Linked DNA regions of Homo sapiens: region 1 is linked to region 2. A link means that fine-mapping ties the variant in region 2 to the expression of a gene that starts in the linked region. Tissue or cell type: skeletal muscle. Region 2 holds a variant in brackets; the other region holds the start of a gene. All regions are shown on one strand. Distances are between the middles of the regions.

Region 1 (9,277 bases), 31 kb before region 2:
AATAGTTACAACAAAGACCACTGACCACAAATCATCATAACAGATATACTAATAATGAAAAAGTTTCAAATATTGAAAGAATTACCAAAATGTGATAAGAGCCATGAAGTGAGCATATGCTATTAGAAAAAATGGTGCCAATAGACTCACTCAACACAGGGTTACCACAAACCTTATATTAAAAAAAAAAATTGCACCAAATCATACTTCCATCAAGAGAGTATAAATGTATCCCCATTTCTTATGTGTACTCTTACCAACATTATTTCTAGTAATTTAAAAAGTTTATAAGTTTCATAGATGAAAACATGCACCTAGTAACTTTTTTTTTTTTTTTTGAGACAGGATTTCATTCCTTTCACTCAGGTGGGAGTGCAATAGCATGATCTTGGCTCACTATTACCTCTGCCTCCCAGGCTCAAGCAATTCTCCTGCCTTAGCCGCCTAAGGGGCTGGGACCACAGGTGTATGCCACAGTGCCGACTGATTTTTTGTAGAGACAGGGTTTCACCATGTTGCCCAGGCTGGTCTCAAACTCCCGGGCTCAAGTGATCCGCCCACCTCTGCCTCCGAAAGTGCTGGGATTACAGGCGTGATTACCCTGCCCGGCCCCCTACTAACTTTTATCATAAGCTTAATCTTAGAACAGAGTCCAAAAATTTTGACAGGAGTGGTGGTGGAAACTAGTAGAAAAAGGAGGAGAAGACCTAAGGCATGAGAACTGTCAGTATATTTTACAAAATAAAGTTAAAATATGATATTTGAAAGTTGAAGCCAGGCACGGCGGTTCACACCTGTTATCCCAGCACTTTGGGAGGCCGAGGCTGGTGGATCATTTGAGGCTAGGAGTTGGAGACTAGCCTGGCACATGATGAAACCCCATCTCTACTAAAAATACAAAAACTAGACAGGCGTGGTGGTGCATGCCTGTAGTCCCAGCTACTCAGGAGGCTGAGGCACAAGAATCACTTGAACCCGGGAGGCGGAGGTTGCAGTGAGCCAAGATTGCACCACTGCACTCCAGCCTGGGTGACAAAGCAATGCTCTGTCTCAAAAAAAAAAAAAAAAAGAAAGAAAGAAAAAGAAATGATGTTGAAAAATCCAGCCAATAACATTTTTGTCACAATAGGGGAACTCTCAAGTATAGGGTTTTGGAGAGTCAGATATTTCCTTTTCTCCCCGCCAGGGAGAAAGACCTAGAGGTTTCCCCCACTCCCTCTCACTGTCCAGAGCAATTACCACAATTTAGTTCAGCCTAAAGAGCATATGCTGTTGGAAAAACAGCAACAATAGACTTACTTGATGCAGGGATGCCATAAGCCTTAATTTTTTTTTTTTTTTTTGAGACAAAGTCTCACTCTGTTACCCAGCCTGGAGTGCAGTGGAGCGATCTCGGCTCACCGCAACCTCTGCCTCCCAGGTTCAAGCAATTCTCCTGCCTTATCCTCCAGAGTAGCTGGGATGACAGGTGCATATCACCATGCCTGGCTAATTTTTGTATTTTTTTTTTTTTAGCAGAAAGACAGGGTTTCACCATATTGGCCAGGCTGGTCTCAAACTCCCGACCTCATGATCCGCCTGCCTTGGCTTCCCAAAGTTTTGGGATTACAGGCATGAGCCACCGCGCCCAGCCAAACCTTAAATTTTTAAAAAAATCACACAGGAGGCTGGGTGCGGTGGCTCACGCCTGTAATCCCAGCACTTTGGGAGGCCGAGGTGAGCGGATCACCTGAGGTCGGGAGTTCCAGATCAGCCTGACCAACATGGAGAAACCTCGTCTCTACTAAAAATACAAAATTAGCCAGGCATGTTGGTGCATGCCTGTAATCCCAACTACTCCAGAGGCTGAGGCAGGAGAATTGCTTGAACCCAGGAGGTGGAGGCTGCAGTGAGCTGAGATGGCACCATTGCACGCCAGCCTGGGCAACAAGAGCGAAACTCCACCTCAAAAAAAAAAAAAAAGAAAGAAATCACACTGGATCTGTAGAAAGAACATCAGTTCTTTTCAGGCCATGTGAATTCAGGCACATCTACCACACCTGTCCTGTTTCCTCACTTGAGAAAGTGAGAATAACAACATCACACCAATGTCACTCACCTTGAATGTTTACTATGAATTAAATCAAGACAAGCATTTGGAATTATTTTGTGAATCTTAAGTGCTACACAGGAGTGTGGCAGAGGAATAAGCTTCTAAAGTCAGCAAGTAAGGTTAAAATTGAGTGCAATAAAAATTGCTTAGAAGTTCCTTAAATTGCCCATGAGCACAGTATGACAAACTTGAGACACATGAGAACAAAGACTCTCTGAGAGACAGCTGGGACAAACATTCAGTAACACTGCCAGCAAAATTGCTGCACTAGAACATTTTCATTTCCTCTTTCTGCCAAGTGCATAACTGAATCTAAGATGAAAGTATGATGCAACTTTGTTATTCTACAATTTGAAATTGGCAAGTTAAGAAACCTCTCTGGGCCTCTTTGTCTAATGGTGTAGCTCAGCTGGATCAGGGTTTCCTCCACGGTTTGTCTGACAAATACTGCCAGCTTACTATGCTTACTATGTTCCAGGCTGCTGTGTTGGACTGGGGGAGGGTAGACGCCAAGGAGACAATCTGATCGCAACAGGCTGGTGAGTGGTGAGGCAGTTTCAACCTCCATTTGAGGAATACAGGATTCTATCATCACCTTCCAGGGAATGCAGTGAATGTTTAGAAAAATTACAGAAAGTTACATATTTGGTTATGAATACCAGCTACAATGCTATATCTAATATGAATTAAGTTTCTTTGTTTCCTTTTTTCTGTTTATGTTGCTACTTTTTTTTTTTTTTTTGAGACAGTCTCACTCTGTTGCCCAGGCTGGAGTGCAGTGGAGGGATCTTGGTTTGCTGCAACTTCCGCCTCCCAGGTTCAAGCGATTCTCCTGCCTTAGCCTCCTGAGGAACTGGGATTACAGGCACCTGCCACCACGCCCAGCTAATTTTTGTATTTTCAGTAAGACGGGGGTTTCACGATGTTGGCCAGGCTGGTCTCGAACTGCTTACCTAAAGTGATCTGCCCGCCTCGGCCTCCCAAAATGCTGGGATTACAGGCGTGAGCCCCAGCACCCCGCCTACGTTGCTACTTTTTAATGTGGGGTCATTTTTTAAACCTGGCTTTTTAATTGAAAAAGTAATACAAACATATGGAAAAATTCAAACTGTACTAAAAAAGGTAGACAATGAGAAGCAAATCTTTCTTCTATTTCAGACTCCTCCTTCCCCCATTCCACACCATATCCCCTCAACCCTCCTTCTATTCAGACGTTACCACTGGGTCAATCCGTTGAAAGTTACAGCTAAGGTGATACCTGGGGTCCAAAAGCTAAATATGGACCTACGCTATCACCAGTCCCTTCCAGTTCTAAAACTAAGTCCAAGCCTTTTGCAGCACGAAAGAGATAGCCTCCTCTCATCTAAAGTTATGGCTGGTAAGGCTGAGACGAATGGAAATGGATTTCAAAGACATAGATTTAGAACTCCTGAAAGGCAGGAGACAGAACTCAATACTTTCATGGTGAGTGGTTTATTTACTGATTAAATAAACGCTCCCTTAGGGATGTAAGCTCCACACCGGCAGGAGCTTCATCACCAGCTCTCACTGCAGACCCCGGCATTAAAGGAGCTCACACGGTAAAAGCCCCTACCGCCCACCACAGCCACAGCGGCCGGCAGCCCAAAGTGGGAAACCGCGCCGGCCGTCACGTGACTCCAGCTCCCCCCGGCAACCGGCCCGCCCCCACCGAGACCCCGCCAATCCGGAAGGGAGGTCCAATTTGGCCAGGCCAGGGCGTGTTCCACCGGCCCAGTAGCCTTGCTGCTGCGTTATCCCTAGACTCGCCCCACTTGCCTCGGAGTCTCAGGCCGTTGCCTAGGTCCTCCCGGTAAAACCCTGGAGACTGCTAGGGAGAGGAGCAAGGGAGGGGCCAGCGCGCAGAAGTGCGGACGCAACCCGGCGGCCGCGGGCGAGGCTTATGCAGAGCTTCAAGAAACAGCTAGGGAGACCGCAGGAGTCTCCAGAGCGCGCGCGCGGGCCCTCCCCGGCCCGACCCACGCGGCGCGGCGTGGTGACGCCCGCGCGGCCTGAGGAAGGGGCGGGGTCGGGGCGGGCCTCCGCGCTCCTCCCGCCCTCTCTGTGTCCCTACTCTCCCTCCCCTTCCCTCCCCCACACTCGGCCCCGTCAGCTTGGGGGTGCCTTCGTCGCGCAGCCTTGCGTCGGCCCGGCCCGGCCAGGCCAGCGGGCAGATGCCCCGAGCTGCCGCCGCCGCCGCCGCCGACTCGGCCGGTGGCGGTGTGGGAGGTGGGCGACCAGCCCGGGGCCGCTGAGTGTGACGGACGCAACTGGGGGCGCCGGGGGCTCCGCACGGACCATGTATTTTCTGAGCGGCTGGCCCAAGAGGCTGCTGTGCCCTCTGGGGAGCCCGGCCGAGGCGCCTTTCCACGTTCAGTCCGACCCGCAGAGGGCTTTCTTCGCCGTGCTGGCCGCGGCCCGCCTCAGCATCTGGTACAGCCGAGTAAGTAGAGCCGCCCGCCGCCTTTCGCCGCTGCCTCCCCGGCCTCCCGGCGCCGTCCCACCCCCAACTTCCACCCAGAGCCTAGGACTCCTGCCCCTTCGTGCCAGACCCACCTGCCTTCGCAGTCCGCGTCCTCGTTCCACCGAATTGGCCGCAGGTACCCGCCGGCTGCAGGCACGTCCTCCAGCCGGCGGTCCGGGGTGGATGAAGTCGCTGCTGCCGAAAATCCCTGAGCCTCCCCGCGTTGGACCGACGGCCGCGGCGTGCAGACTCCGCACGCTCCCCGGCCGAGCCCAGACTTGTTCTTCTCTCCCTTCCCCCATTCCCCGAGGGACAAATTTGTTTAAACTTTCCACAATTAGAAATCCGGCCGCTGTGGTGCCCCAACCCTCCCTTACTTTAAAGGTCGCCGTTTTGGAGTTAGGGAAAGCCTCTTGGGCTTTACCCAGCGCCAGACTTTACAGGCCTGTAATAACTTATTTCTACAAACTACAGCCTGAATTCTTTATTCTTCACTAAAGGTCTGGTTATTTAACTCCCCTCTTTAACCCCAACATCCCTTCCCCACTTTCGAGTTGGTCTTTTTCTTTGCTGCTGCTCTTGGACTCTTCGGAATAGGGGGTTAAAGGAGCGGAAGTAGAACTCAAATCTGTCCGCGGAACTCCCAGTTATAACACCTGGAAATAATAAGGCTTGGGAGGAGCATGGAACTGAATTCTGTTTTTGCTTTAAGTCCTGGTTATCTTTTTCTTTCTTGTATTGAATTACTGAGTAGATATGAGAAAGAAATAAGTGGTGGATGGGATACTCCCTACTCTCTGCAAACACTGCTATAACTTTGTCTATGAGAACGACAGAGTTCAGAGTATAAAAATGCTTTTTTTCCTCCCCAAAGAAGGCAGTACCAATCGATGTCAGAGTGAAGTTTTTCTCCTTTCCAAGTTAATTTGACCATGTGGGGATAGGTTGTGATCTTGTCCTTATTAGGTGTTCGTGAAATACTGGTTTTAGTTTGTTAAAATCCCCAAATCTTTGTGTGTTGCTGTTCCATTACCTGTAATGCCCTTGACAGTCCTCACCCACTTCCCTGGTAATACTGGTGATGGGATTTAGTGACGGGTAATTCTGGTGTCTCCTTTGACTGTCATAGTTGGGCTGTAAATCAGACTATTTGCCATCAAGTTTTGGCTGATCTAATTTTCAAATGCAAATCAGAACAAAACAAACTTATAAAATCGTAATACCAACAATATGACTATTTTGTCTAGTGCCTGATTGTATTTTGAATATATATGTATGTATGTGTGTGTGTATATATATAAACATATGTGTAAATATATATAAAGTATCATCTGGTTCCTAAATGAGATATTCGTTTACAATGTATATGCCAGTTGAATAATTTTTAATTTGTTTAGGTGTATATAACTCAACTTTAAAGCACATGCAGAAAAAAATAGAACTTGAATTTAAATTGTCTTTTGAATTTAATACATAATTCCTTTTGAATGTAACAAATTTAGACTTTCGTCTAAAATTTAACTTTTCTTACCTTTAAAAAGGCAGACCTAACTTAATTTTAAATAAAAGTAAACAATATGACCTATGAATTGACCAGAAGCCTGTAAACCACTTTATTCCCCCATAAGAGAAGCATAAACATATGCTTTAATTTAGGGACATTGTGAATATTCTTAAGCATGTCTATTGTTTGGTTTTGGAGTTACATACGACATCTAGAAATCCAAGGCAGTTCTGGAATTTAAACTATTCATACTCTTCTTTCAAATTCCCACCTCACATGCAACTTCCTTTTTCCACAGAAGTCCAGGGACCCCTACTATTAAGTTCTGTTGTGCAAAAGTTAGGCTGTAGGGAACCCATGGGTTTAGAGGTCTGGAGTGAAATGAAATGCAGGAATACCTTAGAGGAGGCTGTATAGTACTGTAGTATGAGTGGTTAACCTTGGTCTCTGGGCACCAGCTTTGTTGTCACTGAAAAAAATCAGATATTCACGAGGTCAAGAGATCGAGACCATCCTGGCCAACATGGTGAAATCCCGTCTCTACTAAAAATACAAAAAAATAGCTGGGCGTGGTGGTGCACGCCTATAGCCCCAGCTACTCGGGAGGCTGAGGCAGGAGAATCGCTTGAACCCAAGAGGCAGAGGTTGCAGTGAGCCAAGATCCCACCACTGCACTCCAGCCTGGCGACAGAGCAAGACTCTGTCTCAAAAAAAAAAAAAAAAAAAAATCAAATATTGAACCAAGTGATTATAAGGTGTATGATTACATGCCTAGGTGAGTGGGATACATATGCTAGACTCCAGCTTCCAATCTTCTCTTCCTGGGATATGCCCTTTCTTACTCTGTATGAAAGTTTTCATTTTGATTTTCTAATTTGTAAACTTCCTGAAAGTATGTAAGTTAATTAGGTTAACAAACTTCATTTAAAAGTGAAAATGCCTTTAGGTAAATTAAAGGGCTATCAGTTATACTTCCATAATTTAGAGTGAATTGGTTTAAAAAGTTCTCATGGAGCTGCTAAAAGCTTTGATTTTTGAGAGGCTGTAGATACAAGTAGTTTTATAATAATATGTGAAGATCTACAGGATTTTACAGAGTTGAAGTCTTACAGCTGCTTGAGGGCATTTGAAGGCAGGGAGACATGCTCGTAGAGATGATAAAACAAGATTTGCTTACCTGAAATTTTGTTAGGGCTCACTTAGTAAATCAGGCTCTCTTAGGAGTGATATATTTTAAAAAGAGACAACTAGCCTTGTGGAAGGGACAGTCGTTTAGTAGTCTAAGCTGGTTGTTTCAATGTTCAAAAGAATTGTGGAAATTGTATGTGTACAGTGATAATTCATAAGACTGAATCTCTATTAAAATCTCTAACTGTACATTATATGGGTCTTCTAATGAACTTTTATGTACTACTTATACCTACTGTCCTCTATTCTAAGTAGGTATTCGGAATTCCACTGTTTAGACTCATATCTCTTCAGAATTATTTCCTACCCCAAATTTGAGAAATACAGTATAGTGTTGTTTATGAACAAAAGAGCCTCTAGATAGTTACTTAGCTTTTTTATATTGGAGCCCCAATATTATATTTTGGAGCCCCCCAAATGGTGTTAAAAAAAGGCTCAGTATGTGTAGGCTAGATTGGGGTGGTAGAGGTAGAACTTGACTGGGGGCAGTTGGTACATTTCTGCTAAGGTTATTGTAAAAGGACTAGTTTCAGCTTTGAGGATGAAACTGTTGCATAAGGTAGGTTATGATTTATGATTGACGTAGGTGTAGTGTGAGATGAATTACATTTTGTACTGTACTGAGGGCCCAGAATTATTCCTTTAATATACTAACTGTGACTATGAAAGTCTATATATGTGAACATCAGAATGGTATCTTTGAATTTAGCCATTCTAAATTAGATGTATAGACATTCTCGTTTTTCAGGTCACCGACTTTAAACATTTAAATTAGCTTCAGAAGTATTTTTGAACATCAACTGTAAAAGACAGATGTGTATAAAAGGGATGAAGAGACATGTTATATGTTAGTGTGTTAGATGTTAGTGTGTTAATATAAATCTTGTGAGATATCACTGTTGTAGGTAGCTAATAAAAAGCTGAAATGGGCAAATAATTACTAGGCTTATAAAATAAATTATATGTCGTTTAGTAATCCTGAGCAAAAACTTAGTTCCCATTGGTATGTGCTAATCATGGAAAAAAACAATGATATGTCAAAAGAACCAAGCTTTGGATCAGGTATGTGATTAACTGTGTTGACCTCAGGAAGACCATTTTATTTGTATTTTCCCAGCATTCCCATTTCTCACCCTTTTAACTCTATTACTTTCTCCAGAGAGCCTTCTTTATAAATTCACTGCTCTGAAGTCTTCTAGGGTTCACTGTTGATGAAAGAATGGAGTTCAAACTCCTTAGTTTGATATCACAGACACTCCCTTCTTGGAATGCTCTCTTGCCTCATTTCTGCCTGTCAGAGTATTATCTATCCTTTAACTGCTGTTGAAATCCTTTCTTTATGAGTCATTCTTTACCTACCGTAACCATAAGTGTTCATTTTTCTGATGAACTACTGCTTCCCCACTACTGCCAGCTTTGTTGAGGTATAATTGACAAATAAAAATTGTATATATTTAAGGTGTGCTGTGCGATACTTAGATCTACCCTGTGAGTTGATAATCACAATCAGTCTAATTAACAGATCCACCATCTCACACAGCTCCCTCTTTTTTTGTATGTGGGATGAGAACACTTAAGACCTACTCTCTTAGCAAATTTCAAGTATACAATATATGTTAATTATGGAAATAAATGTCATTATTAACGATAGTTACTGGGCCATGCATTAGGTCCCCAGAACGTATTCATCTTATACCTGAAAATTTGTACCTTTGACTGAAATACTCCCATTTCACCCACCTCCCAGCCCCTGGTAATCATCGTTCTATTCTCTGTTCCTATGAATTTGACGTCTTTATATTCCATATATGAGATCATGAAGTTGTTTTTTGTCTTGCTTACTTAGTATACTGTCCTTAAGTTTTGTCCATGTTGTTGCAGATGGCAGGATTTCCTTGTTTTTTAAAGGCTGAATAATATTTTATGTGTGTATGTGTGTGTGTTACATTTTCTTTATCCATTCATCTATTGACAGACACTTAGGTTGTTTCTGTATCTTGGCTACTTTGAA
Region 2 (9,277 bases):
TTACAGGCATGAGCCACCGCGCCTGGCCTGTAGTTTTCTTTTCATGTAATATCCTTTTCTGATTTTGGTATTAAGGGAATGCTGGACTCAAAATTAGGAAGTACTCCTGCTTCTATCTTGTGGAAGGCTTTGTAAAGAATTGGTGTAATTTCTCCCTTAAACGTTTGGTAGACTTCACCTATGAACACATTTAGTCCTGGTTCTTTCTGTTTTGGATGATTATTAATTATTAATTCAGTTTCTTTAATAATACAGGCGTAGGTTTAGGTCTTTGTTTTGGTTGATATGCTTGCAATGTTGAAAGCCGATAGTTTAATATCAATATTGTCTTTTATTTTACTGTAAAAATACTTTGAATACTCTGTTATCTTAAATTTTATTTGTGTATTTTTATGAGATATTGATAAAAAATACAACTTTTTTTTTTTTTTAATCACACAGCCTAGTGTGTTAATTGTAACCTACAAGGAGCCTGCAAAATCATCTACTCAGTTTGGATCCTACAAGCAAGCTGAATGGAGGCCAGATAGTACCATGATAGCTGTATCAGTAAGTAGATTTTACCGCTAAATAGTGTTTTCTTATGAAATCATTACATCGCATTTAAATTTGATTCTCTTAGATGACTTTCTTTCAGTCTTTTGCACTCATAAGTATTTATTTTATTCTGATAGGAATTGCTTTACTGATTATTCTATGTGGATTACTCCTACTATAGCTTTTCTTCTGACTCTGCTACTTCCTTAACAAAGCACCTATATCCCTAAACATAGCACCTGTATCCTTTTCTGTTTGTTGTTCTCACTTTACTGTTTTGCCCTTGAAGTCTAACTGCTTTACTAATTATTCTGTGCGTGTTACTCCTACTATAGCTTCTGTTTTGACTCTGCTGCTTCCTTCCATCCCTAAACATAGCACCTATATCCTTTTCTGTTTGTTGTTCTCACTTTACTGTTTTGTCCTTGAAGTCTTATCTAGTTTTTTAAAACATATTCACATGATATTCTTGAATTTATATTTAAATTCCTCCCTTCCATTCCAAAAGATATTCCAGAAAATAATAAGCTTTATGTGCATATGTTATACTAAAATTTCCATATCCATTTGGATCTGTTTCTCCTTTTTTTCTTCTGTTCTATTAAACGTGCCTAGATATGTTTAATTTTACCTTTTCAGTTCATGTTTCATCACTGTCTAAGGCTGTCATTATGACTTAATATGCATTAGCAGTAATATATGTGGTTAATTAACATTATTGAGCACCTCCTATCCGATGAGTACAATTGTAATCAGTTTACATGGATCATCCCATTTAATCTTTAGATAAGTGCTTTGAAGTAGATATTATTATCCTTCATAATGGATGTGTAAATTGAGGATCTGAAAAATTGTCTTATCCAAGGTTACATGCGTAGTGTATATTAGAGAGATAAGGTATAAACTTAGCTACTCAGCTTCCATTTACTATATCCTTATATCTAATTTATCTCTTTGCGTTGGTCCCTTTCTAGTCCATACTGTATATAACACTGACTAGGTTAATAGTCTGAAATGTTCATATGATGAAAAATACTGAGTAGTTCTACGCTTCCTATAGCAGGAGTTTGCAGATGACTGACCATGTACCAAATATGCCCTGGTGCCTGTTTGTACACAGACCATAATGTAAGAATAGTTTTTACATATTTAAATAATCAAAACAAGTCAAAGAAGAATATTTGCTACAGTTGAAAATTATGTGATACTTAAATTTCAGTGTCCATAACTAAAATTTTACTGGGGCACGAAAATCCTCACTGATTTATGTATTGTCTGTAACTTCTTTCAAGCTACAATAGCAGATTGAATTGAAGTTCTTACAGCAAGTGTATGTGGTGCTCTCATTGCTTTGCTCTTCTGTTCAATGCACTGTGTAGTAACACAGTTGTAACTTCATAACATTTCAAGTGTACACATATTGCCATTCTGTGACATTTTATATTATTTTTATTCTAGTACATACTCATGTCAAAAGAACCAAAGAAGACAAAAAGACTTTGTTTTGTTTTTAAAGCACACTGTAGTGTGGTTTCTTTTATTATTGAATTAGATGGCAAAATATTGTATTTATTATTCAATGGCACTATAGCTATGCCAAAAGAATATAAGCTGACATCACTAGACTAAGCACTTATCAGAATGTACTGAAGGTTAAGTTAGAAGAATTAAAAAATTTAGCACAGAACAGCTCACCACAAAATTCCTTCACAAAAATAAAATATGAAAATGAAAGTGCAGTAAAAGTAAGTTTGCTTAGTTTTTGATAAATTGACAGATGTTATAATACTGCTCAGTTGTAAATTTCAGTGGTCCATGTGAAGTATGAATTGACTAAGAATTACTGTGAATGACCTGCAGAACAATTCCAGATGAAAAAAATTCTCAAAGGAGTTGAGAAAATACTAATTCAGTACAACCCGAAGTAGAATCTAAGAAGTTGTATTAATTGATAGTAGTAAAAATCCACATGGAGCAGCAAAAGACTTAGTTGGACAGATTTACAAAGTTTGTGAAAATATAAGACTTTTAAAACCTATGGTTAGTGTAAGTTTTTTCAGAGATGGAAGCAGGAATATCTTGAATTGCCCTCCTCCACAGCTGTTATGGCTTGGGTAGTGATAAAAGTTTATTGGAAAGTTTTTTTGTTTTTTTTTTTACCGAGACTGACTTTTTTTTTTTTCTTTACTTGAAGGACCACCATCTACCACTTAACAGACACTAAATAACTTTGGAAAATAGCTTTTGCTGTATTAGAAAATGTTTTCAAATATGAATTATGTAAAATGTCATTAAGGACCAGCATTAATAGATGAAAATTTGCACTCAATTTTGATGATAGGGAAAAGTACTTTAAACCCCAATTTACCAAAAAGGTTATTTCCACAAAAAGAATCTAATTCTCATTAGTGGATGTATATTACCAAAAAAAGTTGTACTTTATGTTAAATGTTACAGTACAATATGTTAAAGAACTATTCTTTTCCCATTGAACGGTCTTGGTAGTCTTGTTGAAAATCAATTGGCCATTGGTATTTGGGGTTATTTCTGGATGCTCCATTCTGTTTCATTGTTATATATGTCTGTCCTTATTCCAGTACCACAGTTTTTAAATTACTGTGGCTTTGTAGTAACTTTTGAAATCAGGAAGTGGAATCCTCCAATTTTATTGTTGTATTTCAGGATATAAGTCATGTCAACCCATTGTCAACCCATTGTAAGTTGAAAATACCATAAGTAAAAAATTTAACAGCCCCAAACATCCATCATAATGTCGTAAGTTGAACCATCATAAGTTCAGTATCATCTATAGTTTTGACTATTCTGAGCCAGTCCCTAAGATGCTATATGACTGTTTGAACTGGTTTTCTATTTCTGTAAAAAATACCATTGGGAATTTGGTAGAGACTGCATTGAATCTGTAGTTCTCTTTGGGAAGCATTAATTTAAGTCTTCCAGCCTATGAACATGCAATGTCTTATCAATTATTTAGACCTTCAATTTCTGTAAGGAGTGTTTTCTGGTGTTCAGTATGCAAGTCTTTTTCCTGCTTCATTAAATTTATTTTTAAGTTTTAAATTTCTTTTTGATGCTATTGTAAATGGAATTGTTTTTAAGTTTCCTTTTCAGTTGTTCATTCCAAGTGTGTAGACATATATCTGATTTTTTCCAACTTAACTTCAGGGTACATGTGTAGGATGTGTGGGTTTGTTGCATAGGTAAACATGTGCTATGGTGGTTTCCTTGCACAGATTATGCCATCACCTAGGTATTAAGCCCAGCATCCATTAGCTATTCTTCCAGATGCTCTCCCTCATCCTGCGCCCTGCCCCTCCATCCTCTAACAGACCCCAGTGTATGTTGTTTCCCCCATGTGTCCATATGTTCTCATCATTCAGCTCCCACTTATAAGTGAAAACATGTGGTATTTGATTTTCTGTTCCTGTGTTAGTTTGCTGAGGATAATGGTTTCCAGCTCCAACCATGTCCCTGCAAAGGATATGATCTTGTTCCTTTTTGTGGCTGCATAGTATTCCATCGTGTATATGTACCACATTTCTTTTATTCAGTCTATCATCGGGGGACATTCAGGTTGATTCCATGTCTTTGCTATTGTGAATAGTGCTGCAGTGAATATATGCATGCATGAATGTTTGTAATAGAATGATTTATATTTTGGGGGGTATACCCAGTAATGAGATTATTGGGTCAAACGGTATTTCTGCCTCTAGGTCTTTGAGGAATTGCCTACTGTCTTCCATAATGGTTGAACTAATTTCCACTCCTACCAACAGTGTAAAAGCATTCCTTTTTCTCCACAACCTAACCAGCACCTGTTGTTTTTTGACTTTTTAGTAATAGCCATTCTGGCTTGTGTGAGACGGTATCTCATTGTGGTTTTGACTTGAATTTCTCTAATAATCAGTGATGTTGAGCTTTTTAAAATGTATTTGTTGGCCACATTTATGTCTTCTTTTGAGAAGTGTCTGTTCATGTCCTTTGCCCACTTCTTAATGGGATTTTTTTTTTCTTGTAAGTTATTAAGTTCATTGTAGATGCTGGATATTAGACCTTTCTTTGTCAGATTAATAGATTCCAAAAATTTGCTACCATTCTGTTGTTTATCTGCTCACTCCAATGATAGTTTCTGTTGCTGTGCAGAAGCTCTTCAGTTCGATTAGATCCCATTTGTCAATTTTTGCTTTTGTTGCAATTGCTTTTGTCATCCTTGTCGTGAAATCTCTGCCTGTGCCTGTGTCCCAAATGGTATTGTCTAGATTTTCTTCCTGGGTTTTACATTTAAATCTTTAATCAATCTTGAGTTCATTTTCCTTTAGGGTGTAAGGAAGGGGTCCAGTTTCAATTTTCTGCATACAGCTAGCCAGTACTCCCAGCACCATATATTACATGGGGAATCCTTTCCCCATTGCTTGTGTTTGTCAGGTTTGCTAAGATCAGATGGTGTAGGTGGGTGTTCTTGTTTCTGGGTTCTCTATTCTGTTACGTTGGTCTATGTGTTTATTCTTGTGCCAGTACCATGCTGTTTTGGTTACTGTAGCCCTGTGTTACAGTTTTAAGTCAGGTAGCATGATGCCTCTGGCCTTGTTCTTTTTGCTTTGATTGCCTTGGCTATTCGGACTCTTTGTTGGTTCCATATGAATTTTAAAATAGCTTTTTTCTAATTCCGTGAAGAATGTCAGTGGTAGTTTAATGGGGATAGCATTGAATCTATAAATTACTTTGGGTAGTATAACCATTTTCACAATATTGACTCTTCCTAGCCATGAACATGGAATGTTTTTCCATTTGTTCGTGTCATCTGTCATTTGTTTGAAAGTTGGTTTGTAGTTCCCCTTGAAGAGGTTCTTCACCTCCCTTGTTAGCTGTATTG[C/G]TAGGTATTTTATTCATTTGTGACCAACTGTGAATGGGAGTTCATTCATGATTTGGCTGTCTGCTTGCCTGTTGATGTATAAGAATGCTAATGATTTTTGCACATTAATTTTCTATCCTTAGACTTTGCTGAAGTTGCTTATCAGCTTACAAAGCTTTTGGGCTGAGGCAATGGGGTTTTCTAATATAGGATCATGTCATCTGCAAACAAAGATAGTTTAATTTTCTCTCTTCCTATTTGAATACCCTTTATTTCTTTCTCTTGCCTGATTGCCCCAGCCAGAACTGCCAATACTATGTTGAATAGGACTGGTGAGAGAGGGCATCCTTGTCTTGTGCCTTTTTTCAAGGGGAATGCTTCCAGCTTTTGTCCATTCATTATGATATTGGCTGTGGGTTTGTCATATATGACTCTTATTATTTTGAAGTATGTTCCTTCAATATCTGGTTTATTGAGAGTTTTTAACCTAAAGCGATGTTGAATTTTATTAAAGACCTTTTCCGCATCTATTGAGATAATCATGTGGTTTTTGTGTTCAGTTCTGTTTATGTGATGAATCACATTTATTGAATTGTGTATGTTGAACCAGTCTTGCATTCCGGGGATGAAGTCTACTTGGACATGATGGATAAACTTTTTGATGGGCTACTGGATATTTGCCAGTATTTTGTTGAGAATTTTTGCATTGATGTTCATCAAGCATATTGGCCTGAGGTTTTCTTTTTTTTTGTTTTGTCTCTGCCAGGTTTTGGTATCAAGATGATGCTGGCCTCATAGAATGAATTAAGGAGGAATCCCTAATTTTCAATTGTTTTGGAATAGTTTCAGTAGAAATAATACCAGCTCTTCTTTGTACCTCTGGTAGAATTCAGCTGTGAATCTGTCTGTCCTGGGCTGGTTTTTTTTTTTGGGTTGCTAGGCTCTTTATTACTTCTCAATTTCAGGACTCATTATTGGTCTATTCAGAGATTCAGTTTCTTCCTGGTTCAGTCTTAGGGAGGGTGTATGTGTCCAGAAAAGTATCCATTTCTTCTAGATTTTCTATTTAATGTGCATTGATGCATTTATAGTATTCTCTGATGATTGTTTGTATTTCTTTGGGGTCAGGATGATATCCCCTTTATCATTTCTGATTGTGTTTATTTAAATCTTCTCTTTTCTTCTTTATTAATCTAGCTAGCAGTCTATGTATTCTATTAATTTTTTTAAATAACCAGCTCTTGGATTCATTGATCGTTTGAATGGTCTTTCATGTCTCTATCTCCTTCAGTTCTGCTCTGATCTTGGTTATATCTTGTCTTCTGCTAGCTTTTGGGTTTGTTCTTGTTTCTCTAGTTCTCTTAGTTGTGGTGTTAGGTTGTTAACTTGAGATCTTTGTAGCTTTTTGATGTGGGCATGTAGTGCTATAAATTTCCCTCAACACTGCTTTAGCTGCATCCCAGAGATTCTGGTACATTGTCTCTTTGTTCTCATTAGTTTCAAAGGACTTCTTGATTTCTGCCTTAATTTCATTATTTACTCAAGTCACTCAGGAGCAGGCTGTTCAATTTCCATGTAGTTGTGTGGTTTTGAGTGAATTTCTTAATTCTTCTGAGTGAATTTTTTTGAGTGTTGTGGTCTGAGAGACTGTTATCATTTCAGTTCTTTTGCATTTGCTGAAGAGTGTTTTACTTCCGATTATGTGATCAAATTTAGAGTAAGTGCCTTGTGATGATGAGAACAATTAGTTTCTGTTGTTTTAGGATGGAGAGTTCTGTAGATATCTGTCAGGTCCACTTGATCTAGAGCTAAGTTCAGATCATGAATATCTGTTAATTTTCTGTCTTGGTGATCTGCCTAATATTGTCAATGGTGTGTTAAGTCTGCTACTATTATTGTGTGGGAGTCTAAGTCTTTTTGAAGGTCTCTAAGAACTTGCTTTAGGAATCTGGGTGTTCCTATACTGTGTGTGCATATATGGAGGATATTTGGCGCTTATTAAATTGAACCCTTTATGTAACGCCCTTTGCCTTTTTTATCTTTTTTCATTTAAAGTCTGTTTTGTGAGAAACTAGGATCGCAGTCCGTGGTTCTTTCTGTTTTCCATTTGCTTGGTAAATTTTCCTCCATCCCTTTATTTTGGGATGTGTGTCTTTGCACATGATATGGGTCTTTTGAAGACAGCATACCGCTGGGTCTTGGTTCTTTATTTAGCTTGCCATTCTGTGTCTTTTAATTGGAGCATTTAGCCCATTTACATTTAAGGTTAGTATTGTTATGTGTGGATTTGATCCTGTCATCAAGATACTAGTTGGTTATTTTGCAGACTTATGTGGTTCCTTCATAGTGTCACTGATCTGTTTACTTCAGTGTGTTTTTGTAGTGGCTGGTAATGGTTTTTCCTTTCCATATTTAGTGCTTCCTTCAGGAGCTCTTGCAAAGCAGGTCTGATGGTTACGAATTCCCTCAGCGTTTGCTTGTCTGAACAGGATCTTGTTTCTCCTTTGCTTATAAAGCTTAGTTTCGCCAGATATGAAATTCTGGGTTGGAAATTCTTTACTTTAAGAATGTTTAATATTGGCCAGGTGTGGTGGCTCACACCTGTAATCCCAGCACTTTGGGAGGCCAAGGCGGGCGGATAACGAGGTCAAGAGATCGACACCATCCTGGCCAACATTGTGAAAAACCCCATCTCTACTAAAAATACAAAAATAATTAGCTGAGTGTCGTGGCGCATACCTGTAGTCCCAGCTACTCAGGAGGCTGAGGCAGGAGAATTGCTTGAACCCAGAAGGCAGAGGTTGCAGTGAGCTGAGATTGCACCACTGCACTCCAGCCTGGCAACGGAGCGAGACTCTGTCAAAAAAAAAAAAGAATGTTTAATATTGGCCCCAATCTCTTCTGGCTTTTAGGGTTTTCACTGAGAGGTCTATTGTTAGTCTCATGGGCCTCCCCTTCGTAGGTGACCTGGTCTTTCTGTCTGACTGCCCTTAACATTTTTCTTTCATTTTGACCTTGCAGAATCTGATGATTATATGTCTTGGGGTTGATCTTCTCAGGGAATATCTTACTGAGGTTTTCTGCATTTCCTGAATTTGAATGTTGGCCTGTCTTCCTAGGTTGGGGAAGTTCTCCTGGATGATATCCTGAAATATGTTTTCCAACTTCGTTCCATTCTCCCCATCTCTTTCAGGTACCCCAGTCAGTCTTAGGTTCAGTTTATTTACATAATCCCACATTTCTCAGAGGTTTTATTCATTTTCATTCTTTTTTCTCTATTCTTGTCCGCTTATCTTATTTCAGCAAGATAGTCTTCAAGCTCTGAGATTCTTTTCTCCACTTGGTCTATTCTGCTATTAATAGTTGTGATTGCATTGTGAAGTTCTTGTAGTATGTTTCTGAGCTCTAACAGGTCGGTTATGTTGCTCTCTAAACTGGCTCCTCCTAGTATTGTCAGTGGTGTGTTCCAGTCTCCCACTATTATTGTGTGGGAGTTTAAGTCTCTTTCAAGGTCCCTAAGAACTTGCTTTGTGAATCTGGGTGTTCCTACATTGGGAGCGTATATATTGAGGACATTTAGCTCTTCTTGTTGAATTGAACCCTTTATTGTTATGTAATGCCCTTTGTCTTTTTTGATCTTGTAGTGTGTTTCTCAGCTCTAATAGGTCAGTTAACTTCCTCTCTAAACTGGCTGCTTATCTCTCACATTGTCAGTGGTGTGTTAAAGTCTCCCACTATTATTGTGTGGGAGTCTAAGTCTCTTTGAAGGTCTCTAAGAACTTGGCACGTCCTGTATTGTTTTGTCATGTTTCTTACTTTGCATTGGGTTAAAACTTGCTCCTTTAGCTCAGTGAAGTTCGTTGTTACCCA

Evidence for each region.
Region 1: INCR1 starts here. The variant in region 2 is fine-mapped to the expression of INCR1 in skeletal muscle (GTEx, PIP above 0.99). The same link has a PIP of 0.9 or more in whole blood.

What each region holds. Positions count from the first base shown.
Region 1 is chr9:5,624,901-5,634,177 of GRCh38, forward strand. INCR1 (interferon stimulated noncoding RNA 1) reads right to left here and starts at 4,827. Exons shown (of 3, transcript XR_007061406.1): 1 at 4,667-4,827. RIC1 (RIC1 partner of RAB6A GEF complex) reads left to right here and starts at 4,207. Exons shown (of 26, transcript NM_020829.4): 1 at 4,207-4,553. The coding sequence starts at 4,410. RefSeq lists enhancers at 2,397-2,616, 4,527-5,027 and a silencer at 3,967-4,506.
Region 2 is chr9:5,656,142-5,665,418 of GRCh38, forward strand. It overlaps RIC1 (RIC1 partner of RAB6A GEF complex), which reads left to right. Exons shown (of 26, transcript NM_020829.4): 2 at 442-549. Among named protein-coding and RNA genes, the nearest start is that of INCR1, 31 kb to the left of the region's middle. The variant C/G (reference allele first, on the strand shown) is at 5,429.